2 linked regions of the Homo sapiens genome follow. The protein of the gene in region 2 purifies or fractionates together with the protein of the main gene of each other region. This does not show direct contact. Each region holds a gene or a part of one and is shown on either strand. Other genes may lie near its edges.

The links.
Region 1: the proteins of PDS5A (region 2) and AKAP8 purify together in Homo sapiens (affinity purification with mass spectrometry, with the first as the bait; one large-scale study listed by BioGRID). This does not show direct contact.

The regions. Positions count from the first base shown.
Region 1 is NC_000019.10:15,352,811-15,355,867, forward strand, and holds the end of AKAP8 (A-kinase anchor protein 8), read right to left. Parts: intron 2,561-3,057; coding exon 2,105-2,560; 3' UTR 575-2,104; downstream 1-574. UniProt on the Homo sapiens protein: Anchoring protein that mediates the subcellular compartmentation of cAMP-dependent protein kinase (PKA type II).
Region 2 is NC_000004.12:39,967,912-39,971,565, forward strand, and holds part of PDS5A (sister chromatid cohesion protein PDS5 homolog A), read right to left. Parts: intron 1-3,654. UniProt on the Homo sapiens protein: Probable regulator of sister chromatid cohesion in mitosis which may stabilize cohesin complex association with chromatin. May couple sister chromatid cohesion during mitosis to DNA replication.

The DNA of each region.
Region 1 (3,057 bases), on a different chromosome or scaffold from region 2:
TGCCCGCCTTGGCCTCCCAAAGTCCTGGGATTACAGGCATGAGCCACCACACCTGGCCTGATATTTTATTTTTTTGAGACAAATTCTTGCTCTGTTGCCCAGGCTGGAGTGCAGTAGCGCAACCTCGACTCACTGCAGCCTCTGCCTCCCTGGTTCAAGCGATTCTTCTGCCTCAGCTTCCCCAGCAGCTGGGATTACAGGTGTGTGCCACCACACCCAGCTAATTTTTGTATTTTTGGTATAGACAGGGTTTTGCCATGTTGGCCAGGCTGGTCTTGAACTCCCGACCTCTACTGATCCACCTGCGTTGGTCTCCTAAAGTGCCAGGAATACAGGTGTGAGCCACCATGCCTGGCCGGGTCTTGGATTTTTATAAGAAGAAAAAAAAGGTGTGGGGTAGGGGAGAGCCAGGTGCAGTAGCTCATGCCTGTAATCCTGGGAGGCAGAGGTTGCAGTAAGCCAAGATCACGCCACTGCACTCCAGCCTGGGCAACAGAGTAAGACTGTCTCAAAAAAAAAAAAAAAAAGAAAAAAAAAAGAAAATTAAGGAAATAAAGCAGTTCCACTAGTGATGTTTTTCTGCACTACTGTTTAATGCTACCGACATTTTTGCCTTAAGAGAACAAGCTTAAAAGGCATGCTCACCCTGCGATTAAGACGCATCTACACAACACAAACGGATGCTGAGCAGAAATGACCCAGAGGCACCATCGTCTTTTCAAGCAGTTTATTTCCATTTTCAGTTCTAATGTTGACTTTTTCATAAATATTCACCTGGAATCTCCACTAAGGCTCCTCATGAGCAGGGCCCAATTCCTAGAATGTGCTTGGTGAGTTAGCCCCTGGTATACAGTAGAGGCTCGGCAAATATTCTACAGCCTCCTTTCTAATGATTTCCCAGTGGCCAGCGTTTCCCAACATGTGAGATGTACAGTTCAAAAGGCCACAGGGAAACTGACACAGCAGGGCCATTTCAAAAGGGGAGGATCTTCCAATTCTTCTGATTTTAGGAAATTCTGTTGCGTGCTAACCTTGAACACATGCTAGCCTCCCTTTCTCAGATTTGGAAAGATCTAAAGTAATAGTTATTTCTCTAAAATGAAACATATATTTCATTTTATATATATATATATATATTACAGATACCTTCTATCTATGGCAATTTATGTTGGATTATTCCACCTATGGCAATCACATCAAGTTTTCTTTCCTTTTTTTTTAAGAGATGGGGTCTTGCTATGTTGTCCAGGTTGGTCTTGAACTCCTGGGCTTAAGCTATCCTCTCACCACGGCCTCCCGAAGTGCTGGGATTATAGGTATGCATCACCGTGCCTGGCCAAATTCTCTTTGTAAATACATTTGAGTGGTAGTAACTAATTTTAAAGGAAAAAAACCTGAAGTAATCTAGAGGTGGAACACAAATGAGGTAAAATATTAGAGAACTGATTCAGCAAGGACTAAAGATTGGGACGCAATGCCCTCTGCACAGTCTGGTTCTTGAGGTTGCGGTGGGTGTGTTTCCAGTGGCGTAGGTCGGTCAGATACTTCTGGCCTTTGGGAGTGCGTGGATGTGACGCGGTCAGTGCCACATGTGAACCAGGTGCTGCGAAGTCCTGTGAAAGTCACACACCATATGGTGCACTACAAAGGTATAGGTTAAAGGCTGAAGCTTGAAACATACAAAAAAAAATCCTCTATAGAGCAAGATATATTCCTAGTATTCAGCTGTTCCCAACCAAATAAAAAAAAAAATTAAGGAAAAAAATAAAAAAGGAAGCATTCCATCAGTGGCTGTATTGAACAAGTAATGTATCATCAAGATATAATCACCCAACCTTTATTATTCCAAGTGCACTACTGTCAAGAGACATGTTACAGCCGCTAAGGACAATGTACTTCAGCTTTGAAACCTGGGCAAGAAGCCACACGACTGCATGAGACAAGCCGTGAGAGGCACTGCTCAGGAGGAAACGCTGGGTCTCTTCACCAAAATTAGATTACAGCATATTCTGGGAGCACACGCCCTTGTACTGCTTACAAACCAAGGGAGAAAGACCAACGCATCCATCATCCCAACGCCTTCCCTGGAACAGGGAAATGAGCATCATTCTGTGGGAACAGCGTCTTTAGACTCTGCATCAGTTTGTTCCACTTCAGCATCCGCGGCAGCTGGGGCAGGAGCAACTCTGGTTTGGGCACTTTCTGCCTCTGCTGCCATTGTCTCGGCGCCATTTCCAGCCTCTGCAGCCTCACTTCTGGCCTTGGGGACGCCCTTCTCATGTGCCGTTCCACAGGGCACCTGCTCTTCCAGCAGCTGTTCGGCTTGAGGATCACTACCGGCCTCCGCTGTGTCCGTGGGGCCTTCGTCCTCAGCCGGCTCCCCGCTGCTCTCTGGAGCGGGCGCTCCTTCCCCATCTACGGCCCTCACTGCTGCTGTAATCACCTCTGCTAAGACGTCCGCGGCCACCTCCTCAGGTGTCTCTTTCTTATCCTCACCTCCTAAATTGTCATCTCCTTCCATTTCTGGATCAACAGTTTCACTGGTGAAAGGGTCCTCACCCTGGCCAAAGAGGAAACACCGGTCAGCGTGGTGTAAGCAGAGCTCAGGAGGCCCATGATTGCGGGGATGTCAGCTTTTCAGAACCAGCAGTCCACAAGGGAAACACTTCTGTAAATTATGCCACAGGAGTGAATCCTACATGTTCTCAGAGCCTACAGATTCAGAAAACACCTCGGGGAGATATTCTGCAATTTTTTTTTTTTTTGAGATGGAGTCTCGCTGTTGCCCAGGCTGGACTGCAGTGGTGCGATCTCGGCTCACTGCAACCTCCGCCTCCTGTGTTTTTAGTAGAGATGGGGTTTCCACCCACCTCAGCCTCCCAAAGCGCTGCGATTACAGGTGTGAACCACCATGCCCGGCCCATTCTGCAATTTTTTTTTTTTTGAGACGGAGTTTTGCTTTGTTGCCCAGGATGGAGTGCAATGGCGCGATCTCAGCTCACCACAACCTCTGCCTCCTGGTTTCAAGTGATTCTCCTGCCTCAGCCTCCTGAGTAG
Region 2 (3,654 bases):
ATCTTAAAAACAAACAAACAAACAAACAAAAAAAACACCAATAATTATCAAGGCCCTCTTACCTCCAAAGTAGCAAGAAAGAAAGAAACAAAGTATGTGTATAGTAAATAGCTCTGTAGTAATCCATGATATAGGATATACTACATAACTAACTTAATTCCATTAAGCCCTTTATGGAATTTGCACAGCTATTTATAAGTGTATTTTATTTTTTTAATTTTTATTGTAAATGAGGTTTTGCCATATTGCCCAAGCTGGTCTCAAACTCCTGAGCTCAAGTGATCTGCCCGTTTCAGCCTCCCAAAGTGCTGGAAATACAGGCATAAGCCAGAGGACACCAGACCTATAAGTGTATTTTAAATGTCACTTATTAGATGTGAACCCTGTATTAGTTTCAGAACCCACAACTATATGGGAGGATGGCTATTTGTGATTCTTTTTTTTTTTTTTTGAGATGGAGTTTCGCTCTTGTTGCCCAGGCTGGAGTGCAATGGTGCTTAGATTACTTAATTATAATATTAATTTTTTTTTTTTTTTTGAGACAGAGTTTCACTGTTGTTGCCCAGGCTGGAGTGCAATGGCACCATGTCGGCTCACCACAACCTCCGCCTCCTGGGTTCAAGCGATTCTCCTGCCTCAGCCTCCTGAGTAGCTGAGATTACAGGCATGCGCCACCACACCCGGCTAATTTTATATTTTTAGTAGAGACAGGGTTTCTCCACGTTGGTCAGGCTGGTCTCGAACTCCCGACCTCAGGTGATTCACCCACCTCGGCCTTCCAAAGTGCTGGGATTACATGCATGAGCCACTGTGCCCGGCCTGTAATATGAATTTTTTAAAAAATCACTTGCTCAGTGTATGCTTTTACTTTTTTTTTTTCTCGTGACAGAGTCTTGCCCTGTCCCCCAGGCTGGAGTGCAGTGGCGTGATCTCGGCTCACTGCAACCTCTGCCTCCCAGGTTCAAGGGATTCTACTGCCCCAGCCTCCTGAGTAGCTGGGATTACAGGCATGTGCCACCACACCCAACTAATTTTATATTTTTAGTAGAAACGGGGTTTCTCCATGTTGGTCAGGCTGGTCTTGAACTCCTGACCTCAGGTGATCCGCCCGCCTAGGCATCCCAAAGTGCTGGGATTACAGGCGTAAGCCACCGTGCCAGCTATTTGTGATTCTTAATGTAACAATGATACTAAACTATTGGCCATCCTTCCACATAGCTAACTTTAGTATGGTTTTAATATTTGTCAATTAATATATAATTGTAACTTCTATTATCTAAGTAGCAGAAGTTAATGACACTTTTCAGCTTTAGGTGACTAGCGTTGTTCACAACCTATCAAATGGTCAGTTTCTTCACCTGAAAAATTAGAACAGAAATACATAACCTCTGAACTACCTGTTGACTCCAAAATTCTAAGTACTGTACCTATGTTACCATCTCTAAGACACAAACTCCTTAGTTTGAAAAGTCCTAGCCAGGCAGAGTGGCTCACGCCCTAATCCCAGCACTTTGGGAGGTCGAGGTGGGTGGATTACCTGAGGTCACCAGTTCGAGACCAGCCTGACCAACATGGTAAAACCCCGTGTCTACTAAAAATACAAAGTTAGCCAGGCGTGGTGGTGGATGCCTATAATCCCAGCTATTCAGGAGGCTGAGGCAGGATAATCACTTGAACCCAGGAAGCAGAGGTTGCAGTGAGCCGAGATCAGGCCATTGCACTCCAGCCTGGGCAACAAGAGCAAAACTTGGTCTCAAAAAAAAGGAAAGTCCTTAGCTGCAATTTGAAATTTTTTCAAATTATCCTTTACTTTCAAAAATAAAAATATTTCTCTAATTCAGTATTAATACAAAATATTCATTCATTCACTTAACAAGTATTTGTTCAGCACCCAATTATGTGCCAGGCATTAAGCTTGGCACTGAGAGGAATGAAAAACAGACACGGTATCTGTATTAATAAGGTTTACAGAGAAGCTAAAGAGACAAACCAAATAAATGTATGGATAAATGTAATATGAAGGAGTTGAAGGGTATGTAATGTAGAATCTTTTTTTTTTTTTTTTGAGACAGAGTCTCGCCCTGTTGCCCAGGCTGGAATGCAGTGATGTGATCTCGGCTCCAAGAAAAAGGGTTTCACTATGTTGGTCAGACTGGTCTCGAACTCTTGACCTCGTGATCCACCCACCTTGGCCTCCCAAAGTGCTGGGATTACAGGCGTGAGCCACCGCGCCCAGCCTGTAATGTAGAACCTTAAAGGCTTCCCTTAAGAAGTAACAAATGAATGACAAATGAACACATGGGCTATTTAATGTAAGGAACCTGTCTAGACAGAAATAAACATGGCATGTTCAGGAAACCAACCGAAGACCACTGTGGCCTGACATAACAAAAATAGGTAAAGTAATGCCCTGGAAACAGGAATGAAAAGCTCTAGTATAGGAAAACATATCTTAGCTCTTTCAAAGACATACTCTAAGAATTATTGTCAACGAAGCTTCAAAGCTTCACAATAGTTTCTCTCAAATGCTTAAAAAAAAAAAAAAAGCTGTCCTTTTTCTCCCTACAAAAGACCAAACTCACTCTCATTCTCTTCACATTTCACTGTAATGTCTTCAACTACATGATAAAAGTTACAACTTTTTAGTTCTACTTAGTTTAGATTCCTTAGAAGAAAGCAACTATATAACAACCAAAGTAAATATGGCGTTATTGCCCCTGCCCTCTGCCACTAAACTGCCCTGTGACTGATTTTGGTAAAGGTTACTTGAATACTTTGGCCTAACTTTCATTATCTGTGAAGTAAGAGGAGGTTCCAGAATTTCCTTTAAGATCCTTCTAATTCTAAGATTATGGTTCCACTGTAAAACCGCTTGTTCCTTTTTTTTTTTTTTTTTTTTTTTTTAAGACAAGGTCTCACTCGGTCACCCAGGCTGGAGTGCAGTGGTAGGATCACGGTTCACTGCAGCCCTGACCTTCCTGGGCTTGAGTGATCCTCCCACCTCACCCTCCTGAGTAGCTACGACCATATTTGCATTTTTTGTAGAGATAGGTTTTTGTCATGTTGCCCAGGCCTATCTCAAATTCCTGGGCTCAAGTGTTCCTCCCACCTTGACCTCCTGAAGTGCTGGGATTACACAGGCATGAGCCACCACACCCAGCCTTGTTCCATTCTTGAAAACTGACGAGAACAGGACCAAACACCGCTGAATTCCTTTGTAATTGCCTTTAAGATGTTTTTTGTTTTGTTTTGTTTGTTTGTTTTCGAGACAGAGTCGCGCTTTGTCACCCAGGCTGGAGTGCAGTGGTGGGATCTTGGCTTACTGCAAGCTCCGCCTCCTGGGTTCATGCAATTCTGCCTCAGCCTTCCAAGTAGCTGGGACTACAGGCCCCGCCACCACGCCTGGATAATTTTTTTGTATTTTTAGTAGAGATGGGATTTCACCTGTGTTAGCCAGGATGGTCTCGATCTCCTGACCTCATGATCCACCCGCCTCGGCCTCCCAAAGTGCTGAGATTACAGGCGTGAGCCACCGCACCGGGCCTGCCTTTAAGGTCTTTTTTAATGAGACAGAGTCTCACTCTGCTGTCACCCAGGCTATAGTGCAGTGGCATAATGCCTCACTGCAACCTCTGCCTCCTGGGTTTAAGTGAT